Linked DNA regions of Homo sapiens: region 1 is linked to region 2. Evidence: fine-mapped QTL for protein levels in blood plasma. A gene starts in region 2. The other region holds a variant in brackets. All regions are shown on one strand. Distances are from middle to middle.

Region 1 (10,239 bases), 31 kb before region 2:
CCCAAAGTGCTGGGATTACAGGTGTGAGCCACCATGCCTGGCCAGAGACACCTATCTCTTAAACAACCTTTCATTTATCAGAGGTCCATGGCATGGCATAACAAGAGCCGATGCTTATCAGGCATAATGCCTCATTATATTGTTTCTCATTCAACCCTACAGCAACCCCATGAGGTAAGTACTACTCTCATTACCTTTTTACATGTGGGGAAACTGAGGCTTAGCTTAAGTAACAGATGAAGCTGTCACAGCTGGAAGGTGGGAATGTCAGGTCTCAATTTGAGGGTGTATGACTTACAGACTTGAGGTCTTAACTACATGCTATACTTCTAGAAAAAGTGGCAGGAGGCCTCATGTTTGGAAGGCTCCTGTCACCTCCTCGAGCACCTTTTCTAAAAACAAGAGCTTTCTGGATCTGCTACACAGTGTGGAAAGCTCAAAATGCTCAGTCTGGAAAACATAAAATGCTTTTTGTTTTATTCAAACATGAATGGTTTCTATGTTCTCGAGTTTCTGCCTCCTTCTCAAATACTAACAGAACTGGGAGATACCACATTCCTTATAGATCATTAGTTTAGCTCCACTCGTGTGATTGATAAATGTTTAAAACCCTGAAAACTAGATTAGTTTTGCAAATGTGTGATTTATTTGAATATACCAAGGAGGATATTTGAGTAAATCAAGTTGCAGCAAACATATTACATTGTTCACAAACCAACGAGGTGACTAGGTTTATAAAGAATGCTGAAATTAAAGACATTTACTTCAGCCTATCCAAAGAGGAGATTAAGGCTGAGTGTGGTGGCTCATGCTTGTAATCCCAGCACTTTGGGAGGCCCAGGAGGGCAGAGCACTTGAGGTCAGGAATTTGAGACCAGCCTGGCCAACATGGTGAAAGCCCGTCTCTACTAAAAATGCAAAAATTAGCCGAGCGTGGTGGTGTGCATGCGTAGTCCCAGCTACTCGGGAGGCTGAGGCAGGATAATCGTTTGAACCCAGGAGGCGAAGGCTGCTGTGAGCCGAGATCGTGCCATTGCACTCCAGCCTGGGCAACAGAGCAAGACTCCATTTCAAAAAAACCAAAAAAACAAAAAAGGAAAAAGAAGATTAAAAGCGGGAAAGGAAATTTCTTTATGGGGAAAAAGTATTTCCTATAAAGGGGAAAAGGAATTATTTTAAATGCTATGTGGAATAAAGCATTGGGCTTCAAGGTAAAACTAACCATTTCCTAGATATTGATTAGCATAGGTTTCAGGTTTCTGAGAAGCTTAGATTGTTGTCTACTCCAGTTTTTGCTTTGCTGAAGAATTCAAGGTGTAGAGTATGTTTCCTGGCCTCTACCCCTCTCCCTGTATCTCTTTATACTGGTAAAGTCAAGGCTGGCTTTGGTCCAGGAAACCGAGAGCAGAAGCATCAGGAATGGTGAGTGCAGGCTTGAGGAGAACTTTGCAATGAGGAGGAGTCATTATGTGGGGCTTGAGGGGTGTGTGTGGAAGAGACAGGACATCCTTTCTGGGCAGCCCCTGCTCCATCAACATGGCAGCAGATGGCCAGGCTTTGTATTTGGGAAAGGAATTTTGGGGAATTGCATATAAGAGACTTGGCTGCTGTTGAGTATCAGGTTGAAGCATCCTCTTTTCTTTCTAGCTACCCCCAAGAATCACAGCACAGTTTAGTGGATTCTTCCAAAGCACAGGACCCAGAATTAAATCATGACCTGGGTCCCAACACTGTAAAACTAGGGTAATATGGCTGGCAGAAAGATTTCATCTTGTATGCCAACAATCATTTGAATGACTGGTAGTGGTGGCTTAGAATATTGTGTTGAAAAAGACTGCAAGATTGCCTCTGTGCTCACAGGGAAGAGTGCCACCACTAATGAGTGTTTTCTTTTCTTTTTTTTTTTTTTTTTGGCGGGGTAGGTTGGGGGTGGCGACAGCCTCATTTTGTTGCCCATGCTGGAGTGCAGTGGTGCGATGGTGGGTCACTGCAGCCTTGGCCTCCCACACTCAAGCAATCCTTCCACCACACCTCCCCCAAGTAGCTGGGACTACAGGTGCACACCACCCAGCTAATTAAAAAACAAAAAATTTGTAGAGACAAGTTCTCACTATGTTGCCCAGGCTGGTCTCAAACTCCTAGCCTCAAGTGATCCTCCCATTTTGGTCTCCAAAAGTGTGGGGATTACAGGCACACCTGGCTGAGTGTTTTTGTTCTTTCTTTCTTTTTTTTCTTTTTTTTTTTTTTTGAGATGGAGTCTCTCTCTGTGACCCAGGCTGGAGTGCAGTGTCGTGATCTTGGCTCACTGCAACCTCCACCTCCTGAGTTCAAGCAATTCTCCTGCCTTAGCCTCCTGAGTAGCTGGGATTACAGGCATGTGCCACCATGCCTGGCTAATTTTTTGTATTTTTAGTAGAGATGGGATTTCACTATGTTGGCCAGTCTGGTCTCAAATTCCTGACCTCAAGTGATCCGCCCACCTCGGCCTCCCAAAGTGCTGGGATTGCAGGCGTGAGCCACTGCACCGCACCTGGCCTTCAGTGTTTTCTTTTCTTTCTTTCGTTTTTTTTTTTTTTTTTTTTTTAGAGACAGGGCCCGGCTCTATTCCCCTGACTGCAGTGCAGTTGCACAGTCATATCTCACTGTAGCCTTGAACTCCTAGGCTCAAGCAATCCTCTCGCTTTAGCCTCTTGAGTAGCTGGGACTACATACATGTGCCACGACGCTCAGCTAATTTTATTTCATGTAGAGACAGGGTTTCACTATGTGGCCCAAGCTGGTCTCAAACTCCTGGCATCAAGCAATCCTCCCACCTTGGCCTCTAGAGTATTAGGATTATAGGCATGAGCCACCACACCCAGCCTTATGAATGTTTTCTAAGTGAGCACGTGGGCCCTGTGTATTCCATCCCTGGGTTAGCAGAAACACATGAAAGGAGGCTTTAATTCACTGCTAGCTACAAAACCACGGGAATCTCAGGCTAATTTAATAGCAATGTAGTGGCGGTACAATAGCAATGTTAGCTGACACTCATCCATGCACATTTTTGGCCCACACTTTAAAAAGAACACTGATTAACATGCATACTTAGAACAGGGTTTCTCAAACTCCGTACTACGAACTATTTGTGCTAGATAATTCTTTGTTATTGGGGGTCATCCTGTGCACTGTAGCATGTTTAGCAGCATTCCTGGCCTGTAACTTCCAGATACCAGTACTGACACTACCCTTGCTGTGTCGACCAAAAATGTTTCCAGACGTGTCACCCCAGCTGAGAACCACTGATTTAGAAGAAGGGAAATCAGGGCGGTGATATGACTGGAAATCATGTTTTTTGAAAAATAGTTGAGGGAACTAGGGTGGTTTAATTTGAAGAAGACTAAATATAGTGATATCATTTCAGTATTTGAAAGGTGGTGTTTGGCCTGTTCTCCATCACTCTGGAGGAAGAAACAGAGGCACTGAGTGAAAGTTCTAGGAGATTAGATTTAGACTCAAAATACTTTGGAGAAACTTTCCAACAGAGCTCGCGGAGACTGGCCTGCAAATGCATGTGCAAGCAGGGCCTGGGTAAACACACAGGGGGTGGGAAAAGTTTCTAGTACCAGATAAAGCTTCAAACAATTTTGAAAGGCCCTTTCAAATAATTAGTTACATGATTCTGTAATTTGATATTCCCTGGGATTTGCTCTGGCCTTGGCTTTGTCTGCACATGCCTCCTAAAACCTTTGTTAATCATATAAGAATGATAGCTAATATTTATCTGAGTACACTGCCTCATCGATCTAATCTAATCCCTATGACGACCTACGGAGATAGATACTATTATCTTTGTTTTATAGATGAGGAAGCTGAGGCCTAATGTTAAGTAATTCCCCTGAGGACTCAGTCCTGGGAAATTAAAGAGAGCAGGATTAGACTCAGGTCTCAGATGCCATCATCGTTGGTCTTAACCATTATCCCATATTTTATATTAATCAAAAGACTTGTAAATCTTGGGATTCGAATCAGTGGCTAGGCTTGTGTTTGTACAGTTGTAACTGATGGAAGGACAGCACATACAATCTTACATAGATTGAAAAAAATTTCTCTCCCCCCCAGGAAGTGTCTTTCATTTGGGACTCTGGAAGGAAAACTGGAGGGGGCATGAGTATCAGGTGGAAAATTTCACACTGTTAACAAATAGACACCTTTCCTTAAACCGTATTTGAGTTTGCAGCAAAGCCATTCTATATTATTCTTAAGCCTGTCCTATTTATAGCATCACCCTGATTGCCATAAGCATGTATTAGCATTTCTTCATCATCCTTGTGCACACTATTTTTCACTGGTACAAGCAGAGCGAGACAAAAGGCAATGTAAGGTTGATTACCAGTCCTTTTCGTAATCATACCTGTGTTTCCTGCTCCTCCTTATTCTCACTGCAGAGAAAAAAACATTTCCACAAGATTCCTTCAGCAGCATAACTGATCCCATTGTACTGAATAACAAACACACTCCAAACCTTTCATGACCCTCCCACAAAGGGCCTGTACTGTTAGAAAAGCTGAGTATCCCATAAGCAGTCTCTGCCATGTGAACAAAAACAGCCTAATTGTCTGTCTTCCAAAGTGGAGGTTAAGAGAGATTGCAGGGGTGCTCACAGCACCTGGGTGGGA[T/A]CTGGCTGCTAATGAACACTTCTTTTCATGGTTGGCTGTTGTCCTGGCTGCTGTCCATTCACCAACTCCTCCCCACCATAATCTTGGCATCCCCTTGCTCTCCCCGCCTCTCTCCACTTCTGCTCACCTCTCCTCCTCCAGCCCAGCCATAGATAAGGGCAGGAGCACTGCTCAGGGACAGCCTGATCATTTCTGGAATGGATGCAACAAAAAGAAGCTGCTGCTATTCCTCCCCTTATCCACTCTACAGAGAACCCGGCATTTCCTAATGGGGGCTCCACAGGAGCAGGAGACATGAACAGTTGGGCAACACTGCAATTCATCCTATACCTGCCTCCAGATTCAACACGACTTTTTCCACAGGGCTATCGTGAGGGTCCAAAGAAACAAACTCTTCCTTACAAAATGTAAATATTAGCTGTTATTTTAAAACTATAAATGTTAATTCTTGGCTAGGAGTGGTGGTTCATGCCTGTAGTCCTAACACTTTGGGAGGCCAAGGTGGGAGAATTGCTCGAGGCCAGGAGTTGGAAACTAGCCTGGGCAACATAGTGAGACCCTGTCTTTACAAAAAAAAAAAAAAAGTAAATGCTTATTTTTACTTTTCACTATTCCCAAATTTAAGTAACTCCTGATTGCTTATGAAAGTTCAAACTGTTCTTGACTGGTGGTCATGGAAAAGAAAAAGGAAAGTTGAAACTGATCCTAGAATTTAAGACCACCTTTAAATGCACCGAGCTATTTTTCTAACCCTTCTCCCTTTAGGAATCCCTGTATTCTCATCAGACTGTTCACTGCCCAGTTGCTCTCTGCTTAGAACACCCTTCCACCTCTTCCCAGGTAATGAGAAGCAGGCCCATCCAGAGCCTAGCTCAGCTCTGACCTGCCTCAGGCTCCTTCCTGAGGGCCAGCCCAGAACGTGCCCTCCCTTCTCTTTTTTAAATGGATTTAAGGGAGTGGGAAGGCAGGTGAACCTCAGGAGGCTGAACATGTGTGAAGACAAGAGGAGGAAGTGCTTGAGTGGCACTAAGGTTTGAGACAGGAGCTGGGAGGGGGAACTAGGCCCCAAAAGAGCTGAGAGGAAGAACAGGGCAGGCTCCCTGTGAGGGACGTGCATTTCAGCGAGGTCATCAGTCAGTGTGGTCATCAGTCAGCGTGGTCATCAGTCACCCTGGTCATCAGTCACCGTGATCTGGGCCTCAGGCAGATGGATGGCCTGACAGGGAGAGTGAGCTGTAATCTAGATTACCTTTGCAACACCCTAAAGCCACCGTGACTGTTTTGAATTTCATTCCTTTTCTTGCCTTCAGGAAACCTGTGCCTGTCACTGAAGAGATTCAGAGAAGCACTTGGGCTGGCTGCTTCTCGGAAAGCCTAGCCCTGGGATCAGTGCACTGTTTATTCATTAATAAAGCTGGAAACAAGTACGTCTATTGCCCTCAGAGCTTCTCTCTACGAAAGCCCATACACCTGTCTTAGGCAGTCTGATTTCTCTATGTACAATGTCATATTTGTACACTCCAAGTCTTCTGTCATCCACTATCTTTATTTTATAATGGCAGAAAGTCCTCCCAGTGAAAAGCAGACCACTGTATCCTAGAAGTAAGTAGAGGATGTATTGTTCAGTCTTCCAAAAGATCTACCAGGAGTTCCAATGCAAATCCTCGCCTGCTGGGACCTACATTCTCATATTTTAGACTGGGCCCCAGTTCTGTAGGTGTAGCTATGTAGAGCTTGTGAGAATTTAGGTATGAAAATCAGGCTGCCAGACCCACCCCTTGAGGGCCTGGCTTGCCTGAGCAATTTCCCGGCTGCAGCCCCTGCGGCTGCTCTGGTACCATAACAACCCTTGCCTGCCTATGTCAAGGGGCATTCTGAAACCCAAGGCAGGGAGACACTCCCTGTCCTAGGGTGGAGGCAACCTTATGTAGAACCCTTCTGTGGTCCTGACCATCTGTAGCAGACACAAAGGAAGCTTCCCAGGCCTTCCAGCCTGGAATCTGTAGTTTTCTTACTCCCTGGAGCTGCCTTCAACACAGGGCCTGCCTCGTGATTTCAGATTCTGTTACTTGGTCTTTTCTCTCTGGTCCAGCCTGACTTCCAGGGCACCAGTCTTAGTTTTCTTCTATAGATTTCAACATTCCCCTGGTAGAGACTCCCAACCTGATGCTATGTGCTGTGTCCTGTACCTACCCCACCTTTGGTTGCCATTCTGACCCACTGAAGCCCAGGGCCTGACACTGACCTGGAGATGGGCTACGGAGCTCTTATGAATCACAAGATGTCTGTTTTATTTTCTAAGCCTTCTATACATTCTGATACCATTTTTTAAAGAAAAAGAATAAGATTAAAATATAAAGTATTGATTTAAGCATAGAAAGCGAAGAAAGCATACTAAACCTGAAAGTTTGAATAAAAATATAAGCTCAAGAAGATTTTATATAAACCTGTGACTACTTTCTCCCATCTCCCGTCACCTCCACACTCCATCCATTCTAAACCACTCTGGGTCCCTGACTACGCCAGGCTGCTTCTTGCCTCCATGCCTTCGTTCCTATTATTTTTCAAGTTCTTGGAACATGCAAGGAACTTACCAAATGCTTGTTGAATAAATGCCCCACCTTACAGACTGCTTCCCTTGGAGCGTCTAGCACATAGTCTTTAAAATATGTTGAATTAATGAATAAATAAATATCCATGCTGTGCTACTGAGAGAAACTAACACATTCTTAACTTTTGAGAAACCATTTATGGGAGAAATGATCATTTATCTTTCTCTTTAAACAGTCTTTTAAAAAATTGTGGTATCAGAAATCTTGCTGATGCTATAAATTGTAACAAAATGCCTTGGAGGGTTGTACATGGAAGACCTGGTTGGCTGTGGCTAAGAAGGGGACCTAGAGATTCATAATAGCTGTGCTTGAATACTTGTTAAACTTGAGTCCTCTTGGACATTTCTCTCCACAAACAAGGGGCAAAATAGAAGTGTTTCTCTAAAAGAGAAAGGACATTGTAGGGAATGAAGAGTTAAATTTCCAGAATAGTGCATACTAAATAGCCTTTAAAAAAATCCTTGATAAAAATACTTGAAATGCTGAATAAAAAGAAAAAAATAAAAGACAAAACCACACACACATTTTTGGGTACTTCATTTTTGCCAGCAAGAAAAATGAGGGAGATTTGCAGAGGCTAAAAATGAAACCAGCACATGAGTCCAGATCAGTAAGAGAGTGCTGGGCGCAATGGCTATGCATTCCAGGGACCAAAAGCTTCTGTCTTCAGAGCCATACCAAACACCAGAGACAAAGCTAAGGGGCCATTCAAGCTGGGGACTCACTGCCAAGTAGGAGCCCTTTAAAATGAAATCTTGGTTTCAGAGGTTTTGGGAAATGGAGATGTTATGAATTCAGGCCTCAAATCTGCATGATGACTGTCTTATATATACACAGTTTCAGGGAATATATATTTTTTTCTTTACCCAGCACCAAGACCAAGTGAGGTTGTTGCCTTCTGGTACTCCCCCTGCCCCAGCTTTGCTGTGCAGCAGTCCAAGCTATCAAGAACCTTAAGATATGGAAGGCATTTGTTAGGCCAGTCCAGAGTCACCTGAAGTCTGGGCAGCACTGGGCTATCTGCGAGGCTGACTGAGCTTGTCCTTCCAGCATTAGCCAAGCAGGAGTGGCAACCTGTCTCTGCCATCCCTGACCAACACACACACAAAAAGTGACCAGAGGGAAAAGTTAAGCTTCAATGAACTTATCTAGAAATTTATAATCAGGAAAACTAGAAAGAAGTGACTTTAAGCAATTTTTTTTACCTTGTGTGTATTTTTATAGTTCAGTGTTCTTTATACTTTGAATTCTATGCTGGCTGGTAGGGGTGTCAGTGGGCAGTACTACCATCTTTTTAATACTTACAGCATATTTCTGAGCTTCAGGGAAGAATATTTAAAGTCCAGGGAGGAAGCTCCTTTCTTCACTTGGTGCCCTTCTTCATGATGTGTGTATGTAGCGTTGGGAGGATAGTGCCTGGCATGGAGCAAAGGCACTAAAGATGTTGGCTCCCTTTCCTGCTACTCAGAGGCTAAGGACCACAGCAAGAGCCAGGGTGACTGTGGATACCAAGCGTGTTGTGTTTCAAGGCCAAAGGGGTGAAGGATAGAGTTAGGAGAAGAATGTTTCATCCAGAGACACTTAGAGGCAGATTCTGTTAGGGACTGAGAATCCTCCTAGGCCTGGAAGCAATGCCCAGCCAGTTTTCCCTTAGTCTAGAAACTAATTAGCTTTGCTTCTTGCTAACCCAGAGGTAAGAAAAGGAACAAATGCTGGTACCTCTAATGCTGCCACAGCTAAGTCAGATCTTGACTTAGACTTAAGAAGTTAGGATAAATAACTAGCACCGTTAGTTTTATATTTATAATGTTTCTTAGTTTCTTCCATCTTTTAGGCATATCTTACCCAAACCAAGGGCAGAGACATTTTCTCATATTTCAGTCAAATACAACAGTTCCAAGTGGTCACTTCAAGTCTCAGGTTTCTTCCTGAGAAACCCAGGAAAGACCAAGTTGTGGCAGCAGAAACCAGGGCCCTATGGGAAAAGAGGCAGGAATGACTAGGGTCTTGGTCCTTTGCCATCTAGGCAATTTTTCTACTACTTCATGGAAGCCAACCACATTCCACCAGAAAAAGTTTCCATGGGCTGCCATCAGAATCAAAATATACCTAGGCTGGGGATGTCCTGATCAGTGCCAAAGTGGCATTTGTAAACCAAAAATAAAATTCTGAGCCCCCCAACCACCTGAATGGACCCCTCCTCTTGGCCAAGGGCATTCCAAAGTTAATCAGCAAAAGTAGTTCAGGCCGTGATAGGAAGCAGAGGGGGTCAGACATGCCCCATTATATCCTCCTCTCTTTTAGAATTCAAGAAAAGCCCACCAGCATTACAATCAACACAGGCTTTATCCGATAAGAAACACTTACAATGTATTCTCTCTGAAGCCTACTTGGAGGCTTCATCTGCGTGATAAAATCTTGGTCTCCACAAGCTCTTATCATAACCTAGAAATTCCTTTCTATTGATAGTAACTCTTTCAACCATTTGCGAGTCAGAAAATTTTTAAATCTACCTGTGACCTTGAAGCCCCCCAACCCCCACTTCAAGTTGTCCCACCTTTCCAGGTTGAACCAATGTAAAGCTTACATGTACTGATTGATGTCTTATGTCTTCCTAAAATGTATCAAAGCAAGCTGTACCCTAACCACCTTGGGCACATACCGTCAAGACCTCTGGAGGCTGTGTCATGGGCACATCCTTAACTTTGGCAAAATAAACTTTTTTAATTGATTAAGACCTGTCTCAGATACTTTTAGTTTCACACATTCCTTGCATGAAATTCTGCTTCACTGTTCTGAAATATGGTCCCTAGTTATAGGAACCATCTTTTCCAGAAACTGGAAATGTAGTTCAACAATGGTCATGAGAGCTATTTCCAGGCATGAGAGATCTGAAAGGCATAGTTTGGCTTCATAGCTATTCGAATTTCTGGAATATGTCAATGGTTGGAGAGACAATAAGTAATATA
Region 2 (10,239 bases):
AGGGAAGCTGAAAGTTGGACACAAATACGGCCTGTGCTGAGATCTCCTCAGCCCAGGCTCAAGCAAGATTTTCTTACCAGACAAGCTTCCATGGTGTTGCGAGGCACTGTTTTCTCTGACCTTCAAGGTCTGAGATGTCTGAGCCAGGCACCAGCTTGCAAACTTAGGAGAAATGGGAAACCAAAATTCCAAAGCAAACTCCCTGAGCCTCCTTGTCCCAGGATCCCTCATTCTCTACTTCATCCACCTTCCTATGGTAGAAAGATCCCTGCTCCTTCTCTACTCAGTAGCTTCCTTCCTGTGACATGTTTTTATCAATGCCATTGTCACTAGTGATTTCAGATGAAACAGGGTAAAGGTTTATGGATCACTAGCCTTGTGTGTTCCATGAAACTCTGCTCTGTTGACATCCATTAATCTCTATCCTGGCCTCTTGCTACCTGTCTTGCCATTTATTCTCAGCTCTTTCCCTGACCCCCCTCTTCCTCTGCCCACCCTTGAATGTTGGTGTTCTTCAGCCATCCGTCCTGGCCCCTTGCTTCCCTCCCTCCACATGCTCTCCGTAGGAGCCACCCCCTATGACTATTCCTTGCCCTTGAGCTATTGACACTAGATGTCTATCCCCAGGCCTGACCTCTCCTAGTTTTAGCCTCATGCCCTCTGCTGCCCAGGGAGCATCCCCATCTGAAGGTCCCAGGGGAATCTCAAGCTCAACACATTAACTAGCTCTCCTCTCTCTTCCTTGTCCCCAACTCACTGCACCCAATCCAGAAACATGGTAGTCATTCCAGGATCTGCCCCTTGCCTCACCTACTCTTATTCTGCAGCATCCTACCTGCCCCTCCAATCATTGATCAAATATCACCAGTTTTAAGTCCAGTGTTTCCTGAATCCATTTTCCTCCTGTAGTTCTTTACTCTCACTCTCATCTATGCCAGGTCCCTGTCATCCTGTATACTCTGACCACAACTGTTTCCCAACTCTTCTTCTGGCCTCCAGGCTTGCTGCCCACCTGAGACGAAAACCACCTTGACCCCCCTCTGAAGGCTCTGAAGGCTCAGATTTTATAGGCTCAGGGAAGCTGAAAGTTGGACACCAATATGGCCTGTGCCTGTAAGGGCTCCTCATCACCACAAATCCCAGTTCTGAGTCTATCGAAGGCCCAGTGTGACCTGGTGTGACCTCTCAGCCTCATCTCCCAGCATTTCCTGCCTCAAACTTCATGTTATGATGATAATACACAGTAGTGTGTAGCTTTCCAACACACCATGCTCATTCATGAGTTTTATTGTATTTGATTTAATTCTGTTTCCTCTACCTAGACAGCCTTTTCCACCCTTCTTCACCTGGGTCATATGAACTCATTTTTCAAGACACAGCCCACCCATTCTCTGGCTCAGAAACCCTCCCCAAAAGCCTTGGGTGAGGGAAGTGCTCCCCTTGCAACCTGTGCTTATTGTCTGAGGACTTAAGGGTGGCGCGTTAGAGTTGTTATGTGGGAGTCTTTCTCCTCCATTAGGTTATGACCTTGACAGCATCTTAGTCACTTTTGCCCCATTGTCTAGTGCAATATTCAGGACACAGTGAGTGCTCAGTTAATATTGTTGACTGGAACTTAACCCCCTCAGAGCAAGGGTTTTCTACCCCTGTCCTCCTAGCAAGCATTCTGCAAATGTTTCATGAGCGAATGCTGCTGCTGTCAACAGCCATGATGGGGAGAGGGGAGGAGGGTTCTAGTCACACAGTTCCTAAATGTGCACAGAGGCCAGGCACGGTAAAATCTGCACATCAGCATTCCATCCCTGAGCAGCATGCATGCTGAGAGTGAGATCTGAAGGAATTAGGCTCTCTGGAAATTATGAATACTTAGGAGAATAACTCACTGGGTCTGCAGAGGATGGCAGGCCCTTTCATGAGCGTTCCAACATCACCACTGTCATGATCACCTCCAGGAGAGGTATTTTTATGAATTAAGGCCATTATGACAAAGGAAGAGGGTTATTAGGGTCAAGAGTTACCCCAGGCAGGCTCCACCTGCATCCCTGAGATGAGCTTTCATGATCCTGCTCCCCACTGAAGCTGCTCATTGGCCCTCTTCCTGGAGGTCCCTTGCACAAAGGATCTGCCACCCTCATGGACAGTCGCTGCTTCTGAAACTGCAGAGCATGAATAGCCAACAAGGCATGCAGGAGCCAACAAGAGGAGTCTCTGTTGATTCCAGTGGGTTTCTGAAGGGTAGGGGATACGAATTTTGAACACCCACCTCCTGCTAATCCTCCAGCAAAACCAGTCAGACTGGATGCAAAGCATTACGAGAGAGCCCACACATCCCATCTGACCTCTGAACAATGGAGCCACTTGTTGCAGGAGGAGTGTTTCATGTCCTTGGGATCAAGGCTGGAGGAATGGTGGGCATGGAGAACTGGGACTGGCAGGAGCAGGGGCAAGGGTGGCAGGGGGAGAGAGCTTGGGATTTCAGAGCAAGATCCCCTCATGCACAGTTTCACAGTCATCTGGCCTTAACTTCTCTGAGGTGATAACGAGTCTTCACAAGGCAGTGGTGGACACGCTGCTCTAAGACACCTAGTGCAGGGCAGGGAAGGAGTCACTCACAAAATGCTAGCTCCTCTGACATAGGTGCTTCTTAGGGACATCCTCTCAGGGCAGAAGGGTCTAGAGGGAAGCCCCTGCCACCCACTGCTTCTCCTGGAGCACAGTGCTGTAGCCAGGCACAGGGGTGGGGGCAGAAGTGCCGCTGCAGCCACCCCCACCAGCCCTGCAGAGTCCTTCACCTCTGCTACCCGGCAGGTGATTTCAGATAAACGTGAGTCGAGTCAGGGGAGCTGATATTTTGTTTCAAGGAAAAGAACTTTCTAGGCTGCCTCTGGGAAGTAACATTACTCTCGTAGTCTCTTCACAAACTTTTCACTGTTGACCTGAGGATTCCTTTCCTCTCTCCTTCCCTCTCTTCTTTTCTTCCTTTTGTGGGAAAAAGAAACAAATTGGAGGACTGGTCCTTCAAACAACCTCTAGAACCAACAAGTATCAGCCTCCCTAAACACTGTCCTGAGTTGTGACTGACACTGAATCAATCATTTCAAGAAAACCCTGCACTTTCCATCTCTTTCCTTCCAGGAGGGTAAATGCTGTTCTGAGGGAAAAAGAGGCAACTAGAATGTAGCTCAGGGGAGAAGCAAAAGGTAGGGGAGGGAACTTGCTTCCTTCTTCCTCTCTGGGGAGTTCAGCAGCAGCAGCAGCAGCAGCAGCAGCAGCAAGTTCTCCTCTCCAAGGAGCTCCTAGGAAAACTAGGGACCCAACCTTTGAGCTGGGGGGGCCTGGGGAGGGGTGTTGGTGTGAATTGCTCAAGAGTAGCAAGAAATCACACCCACAGAGAATGAAAGCACATTCTCCTCCGTCCCCCTGGGGGCTGCATAAAGGGTCCTCCTGCATCCCCTCCACTGTCGCAGTCATGGATTCCCTGCCATCCCACCATGCAACCCACACCAGCCTGCTCAGTGTCCCCATGGTGCTCACAGCCTTGACATCTCAGGGGAATGCCCAGCTTGGCACGTACTCCCCTCAGTCCAAGCTGCCCAGCAAGCGCCAGCCCTCCATGGCAGGCCACCAACCAAAAACCTCCCTAACCCTGAACAGGTGCCTTGAGCAGCTGAGGTGGGATGTTAAGTCAAATCCAGTTAGGCTCTTGTCTGGCCAGGCTCCCGCTGGCCCAATGCTGGATCAGATAAAATTACAGGTGGGGTCCTATGGGACAGCCCAGCAGTGCTCAGCATCCCCAAAAGACCTCACTGCTGTTCCCTTCACCCATAAGGATAGAGAGAAGAGTATATACTACCTCCAGAAGAGGATCTGCCCCAGGGAAGCCATGGCTGGGGAAGGTTCCCAGCGTATCTGGGTACTGGCTGAGTGGAGCTGCCGCTGCCTTCCTTGGTGACTCACAACCAGCTCCCGTGTATTGGCCTTAAATAGTGTGTTGAGGCCGGGAGTGGTGCGTGCAGCTGTAGACGGCTCAGGTATGAGGAAACTGGCTGTGCAGAATTCCCTGCAGGCACAGTGGCTGCCTGCTCCGGCCAGCCAGCCAAGCCAGGGGCTCAGAGCTGCCTTTCCAAGTCTTGACTTTGGGAGGGTGACGAGGAAAAGCTTCCCTGGCCCTTGCTTCAGGGCCTGCATTCAGCAGGACTTTCCTCCTGACTGTGGAAGGGAGCTGTAGGGAGGGAGATTTAATCTCAAAATAAGAAAGGACTGGAATAGCTCAAAGTGTCAGGCTATGCTGGGAGCCTTGGGGCCAGGAGTCCCCATCTCTGCTGGTAGATGACGCTCAAACAGAGGCTGGGTCACCATTGGTCAGGTCTCTCGTGGAGGAGACTCATGCTGGGGGACCTCAGGAAGGCCATGAGCTGAAGTGACAAGACCACTGAGTTTGTCACTCAAGACTGAACTTGCCTAGGTCTCCTGAGATGCCCAGCTGGGTGTGCAATTCTCTTCCAGCTTCATTTCAGTGGGAGCAGGAGAGGGCCAGCACTTCCCACCTTGCAATTTTTTTGAGACTCCAAAAAGACACTGAATGTGCTCTGCTTCAACTGCCCCTCTCTCTGGAGATCCCAATACTCAGAAGCTATTGCTGTCAAAGGTGAGTGGGTTAGCAAAAATCTCTGACATTTCATCCAGCAGATTGCCAACTAGGCAAGATTCTCGTTAAAGCCTAAACGTTGCTCTCTCTCTCTCTTATTCTCTCTCTCTCTCCTTATTGTTTCCTCCAGCCCCCAGAAGTACCTTGGATGGGAAAGTTTCATGACTGGTTGCCTGGCTTACTGCTGCTGCTGACTGACTATGTTTGCAGTGAAGGTGCTCCAGGCCTTCAGCAGCATCCTCCTAGTGTTTGCGTATGGGCAGGTGGAGCAACCATTGAGTAAAGATGGAGCAGAGAGAACTGAGTGGTGAAAATAAGGCAGCAGGAGAGGGCAAGGTCACAGTGGAAAGACCTTTAGAGTCAAACAGCTAGGTTCAATTCCTGGGTTCCTAATTAATCATGTGGCTTTGAGAACATCACTTTACTTCAATGTGTGTCTCACTGGGTTGCAGTGAGGGATAAATGAGAGGCGGGTCTATGTGCTTTCCCTTCCCCAGAATAAGTAAAGGGTGATGCCCTGGAATCTATGCAGTGCCAGTGCTGAATGGTCACTTCCCGGGTCTGGGGAAGCTGAGGGCAGTGGGAGCAGTGGTTTCTGTAATTCCAACCAAAGGCACAGGGATTCTGCCCTACCCCTCAATGAGCCTTAAGAAGAGCAGCTTCAGCTGGGCACAGTGGCTCAAGCTTATAATCCCAATATTTTGGGAGGCCAAGGTAGGAGGAATTTTTTTTTTTTGAGACTGAGTCTCGCTCTGTTGTCCAGGCTGGAGTGCAATGGTACAATCTTGGCTCTGTAACTGTAACCTCTGCCTCCTGGGTTCAAGCGATTCTCCTGCCTCAGCATCCCAAGTAGATGGGATTATAGGTGCACCACCGCACTCAGCTAATTTTTGTATTTTTAGTAGAGACGGGGTTTCTCCATATTGGCCAAGCTGGTCTCGAACTCCCAACCTCAAGTGATCCACCCACCTCGACTTCCCCAAGTACTGGAATTACAGGCATGAGCCACTGCGCCTGGCTGGTAGGAGGAATTCTTGAGCCTAGCAGTTCGAAACTAGCCTGAGCAGCATACTGAGACTTCGTCTCTACAAAATTTAAAAAAAAAAAAAAAGAATCCATCTAGTAACAGGAAAACAAACAAAAAATTAGCTGGGCATATAGTCCCAGCTGCTCAGGAGGCTGGGGTGGGAGGATCACTTGAGTGGGGCTTGAAGCTGCAGTGAGCCATGATCGTGCCAGTATACTCCACGATGGGCAACAAAGCAAGATGCTGTCTTAAAAAAAAAACAAAAAAGCAGCCCCACCTCAAACACCCTGGGGCAGAGCCATGGAGTTTCTCTCTTCTAGCCATGCATCATCACTAAAGGGACAGCTAAGGATGACCCTGGAGGGAAAATCAAGACAACCCAGCAGAGACACCTCCGAGTGAGAGGGAAAATGTAGCTGAAGTGGCCCACCTGTTAGAGGGCAGGCATTACCTGGCAGGGATGTGGAGCTGAAAAGCATTCTGCTGCCTCTGGAGAAGCAAATGGACAGTACTCTGGTTCTGACTCCAAAACTTGAAGAATATCACACACAAAATAATGAGGGAAATCATTACAAAGCAACAGCCCAAAAGTGTGTGTGTGCGCATGTGCACGCGCGTGCACGTGTAAAGAGAGAGTCTTGGAAACATTGAACTCTCCAGCATTTGAAAGCCTCTCTTGGCTCCCCTGACACTGTTCTCTGAGACTCTCACTAATGCCCCTCACTGTCTTGTGCCCAGGCCCTTTTCCTTCGCCTCTCCCATAAGTGATAGGGGTCCCTGTGGTCCTGTCCTCTGCCTTTTCTTCTCATAGCACACATGTGCCCTGGGCAACCTTGACCACTGCTCTGCTTCGACTGCTCTGGAGATCACAATATCTGCATCCTCAGCTCCCTTCCCTTGACCAAGCCCCAACCCCACATACCCAGCTGCTTAGTGGACATCTCCAATCGGCTGTCTAGAAGGCACCATCTCCCATCTCTAACCCGGCTGCTCCCCCTAGGTCACATCTTTTGGAACACAACAGCATCCCACACTAGGCTGCCACAGTCAGAAACCTCAAAGTCACCCTTTATTCCGCCTGCCTGGCTCCCTACATCCCTGATTCCTCCTCCTTGGGTTAGTCTACTAAGGCTGCCATAAAAAAGTACCATAGACTGGTGGTTGAAACAATGGAAATGTATTTTCTCACAATTCTGGAGGCTGCAAGGCTGAGATCAAGGTGTCAGCGGAGTTAGTTTCTCCTGAGGCCTCTCTCCTTGGCTTGTAGATGGTTTCTTCTCCCTGTGTCTTCACGTGGCCTTCCCTCTGTGTGTGTTTGTCCTGATCTCTTCTTCTTTTTTTTTGAGACGGAGTTTCACTCTTGCCGCCCAGGCTGGAGTGCAATGGCGCGATCTCGGCTCACTGCAACCTCCACCTCCCAGGTTCAAGCAATTCTCCTGCCTCAGCCTCCCAAGTAGCTGGGATTACAGGTGCCCACTAACATGCCCAGCTAATTTTTTGTATTTTTAGTAGAGATAGGGTTTCACCACGTTGGCCAGGCTGGTCTCGAACTCCTGACCTCAGGTGATCCACCCGCCTCGGCCCCCCAAAGTGCTGGGATTATAGTGCCAGCCCTAATCTCCTCTTCTTATAAGAACACCAGTCATATTGGATTAGGGCCCATCCTGATGACCTCATTTTAACTTAATTACTTCTTTGGAGGCCTTATCACCAAATACAGGGGGTTAGGACTTTATGAATTTTGAGGAGAGACATAATTCAGCCCGTAAAACTCCTCTATGCCTCCTAAGTCCATCCCTTCTCTCTATCCCCAATACTATTGCCCAGATTTCCTCCCTCATCATTTCCAATTTGAATTAAACTATTAAATAGTGTCCTTTTCCTAGTCTGCCTCTACTTGTGCTGATCCACCCACTTCCACTAGAATGATCTTTCTAAAATGCAAATCTGATGAGGCACTTGCCTGCTTGAAATGACCAATGCCTCTCCAGAGCCTGTGGTCTGGCCTCTGCCTACCTCTCCAGATTTTTCCCTCATGTCTCCTTTTGGTCCTCTGTGGACCAGCCGTACTGCACTGCTTCAGGTTGCTCTAAAATGCCAGCGTGCTCTCCCAAGCCATCCTGCCTTTACACAAGTTGCTCTTTCTACCTGGAATCCATCCCTGCCTTTTTCTTGTTTTATATAAAATTTATGGGAAACTTTCCCAACAACTACCATCTGGCAGGTGCCATGCTTCGGGATCCCATGTGAACCTGGTGCTACTTACTATGCTCCTAAATTGGGACCATTGAATTGTCTGTCTCCTTCACTAGACACACCTTAGAAATAGAAAGGTGTCTTATTCATTTTTGTATTTCACACCAGCATAAGGCATGCACAGAGTAAGCAATCATTAGATGTTTGTTGGATAAATGTACATTTTTCTTTCACAGCACACAGTAATGGTACTATTTTCCATTTATGCATCTATCTCATTGCTAGTCTGTGAGCTCTTGGAGGGTAAAAACTAGGCCTCGTTCATCTTTTTTTGTTATCAGGTCCTAGCACCGTGCCAGGCATAAAAAGCACTCAGTAACATTTGATGGATGAGTAAGCAGGGATCAACTTGGGGTGTGATCAGTCATTTTCCAGAGGAGATGTCTTCTGAGCTGGATTGACACTATTAGAGGCAGCAGAGAACAAGTTGCATTTGAGATAGAGGAACAATTTATGATTAGGACAAAGGTAAAGCAGACGTAGGAGATAAGCACAAAATCTATTCTCTCCTTGTTGATCTTGGGGAAAGAGAGAGACAGAGATTACTTAATGTATCTGGAACCAAAATGTCTTATGAATTTTTTTTTTTTTTTTTTTTTTTTTGAGACGGAGTCTCACTCTGTCGCCCAGGCTGGAGTGCAGTGGCGGGATCTCGGCTCACTGCAAGCTCCGCCTCCCGGGTTCACGCCATTCTCCTGCCTCAGCCTCCCAAGTAGCTGGGACTACAGGCGCCCGCCACTACGCCCGGCTAATTTTTTTGTATTTTTAGTAGAGACGGGGTTTCACCGTTTTAGCCGGGATGGTCTCGATCTCCTGACCTCGTGATCCGCCCGCCTCGGCCTCCCAAACTGCTGGGATTACAGGCGTGAGCCACCACGCCCGGCCTATGAATTTTTTTAAAAAATTATTTAAATAGCCCAGTCACCTGGAGCTCTGTTTTCTCATTGTGTAGCTGCATATTTTCCTGCGTATAAGGCTTACATTTCCTTGGAATCACAGCACATTCTGGCTCTGATAGGAAGAGCACCCGCCCATGAGTGAATGTGGACCTAGCCGGTTGTTCCAAGTGCTGGCACAGAAGCAGGCTCTGTGCTGTGCTTGCGACTGGACCAGGCATGTTGCAAGCCACTCCCCTGGTGGTCTCTGGCATCCAGACAAGGGGAATGCAGTGGCACCTAGGCAGGGGTGTCCATGACCCCAAAGCCCCAGAGGGGGTGTTACAGCATGCTAATTAGCTCTTATAGTCCCGGCTTCTGCTGCCTAGTGGACAGTGGCATGTTAACAGCTCTGTCATTTCCTTGCCCCACTCTCGCCAGCAGCTCTGGGGCAAACTTGGCACCACCACTGCTTTCCGTTGCATGGGGCAGCTGCCCTTCACCAGTCCCATGTCCAAAAAAAATGAGGTCATGCTGACAATCAAAGGGTTGGGCCTGAACAAGGCCTGGGCAGGGGCATTGCTGGCAGGAGCTCTCCAACTGGCAGAGTGATCAAGAAAAATCCTGTGTCATTGTGACTTCTGGAGTAATGGCTGGCAATTGTTTATGTCTACACCTTAGCAGAATTCAGGCTCCCCTATCCTCCTAGCCTGGTGGTCTCTCATTAGCTTTACAAAGGCAGTTAAGTTTGGCGGAAGGGCTATTCTCACTTAAACTATAAACTAAATGTCTCCCAAAATTAGCTTGGCCCAAGCCCAGTAATAATTAAGTATAGCTTGAAGGCTAAAGGCCAGAAATGAGTTGGCTAGATCAGATCTCCCCAACTGCCATAATTTTCTCACTGTTATAATTTCTGCAAAGGTAGTCTCAATTCTGATAAACACCTTGTCATTAGCAGGAATTTGGAATCCTGCTAAAGGAGAAGAGATCTTATAATATTTTGCAGAGCTGGGAAGAGCAGACCTTGTAGTCTTAATATAGCAAACTTCAAACGGCTAATTGAAAGGGATGCTGACATCTGGTGAAATATTAACGAGCTATCACTTTGTCTGAGACCTTGACTTTCTTCCACTAGTTACTAGGGCCTCCATATAAGGGAAGGGCTGATTGCTTCGTCACTGGCCAGGCAGAGGACCAGTATCTAAGGCAGATGCTATGCTTCCTCTCCATTCCTCCTTCCTCATCCTTCAGCCAGAAGCCCTCAGGCATCGATTCCTAGCAGCCCTGCCTATTGATTTACCAGTTCACAAATTTGTGTGACCCCTACTGTTATCACTAAGTCAGAATGTCCTGGGGCCTGAGTGGAATCCCTGGTCAGCAGAACCCACACTGATTTATTTATTTGAGACAGGGTCTCACTCTGTTGCCCAGGC

Direction of the effects. Positions count from the first base shown, and alleles are read on the strand shown. Strength reflects both the effect of a copy and how common the allele is.
For the plasma level of the protein whose gene starts at base 3,957 in region 2, allele A in region 1 goes with a higher level than allele T (weak association).

Evidence for each region. PIP is the posterior inclusion probability: the model's chance that the variant is causal. Protein levels are from antibody-based Olink assays in UK Biobank. Linkage for the fine-mapping came from a reference panel and not from the study's own genotypes, which makes the PIPs less certain.
Region 1: its variant is fine-mapped to the plasma level of the VTCN1 protein (UK Biobank, PIP above 0.99).

The regions. Positions count from the first base shown.
Region 1 is chr1:117,176,027-117,186,265 of GRCh38, forward strand. The region is part of intron 1 of VTCN1 (V-set domain containing T cell activation inhibitor 1); the gene reads right to left. Among named protein-coding and RNA genes, the nearest start is that of VTCN1, 30 kb to the right of the region's middle. The variant T/A (reference allele first, on the strand shown) is at 4,659.
Region 2 is chr1:117,206,971-117,217,209 of GRCh38, forward strand. It overlaps VTCN1 (V-set domain containing T cell activation inhibitor 1), which reads right to left and starts at 3,957. Exons shown (of 6, transcript NM_024626.4): 1 at 3,854-3,957. The coding sequence starts at 3,885.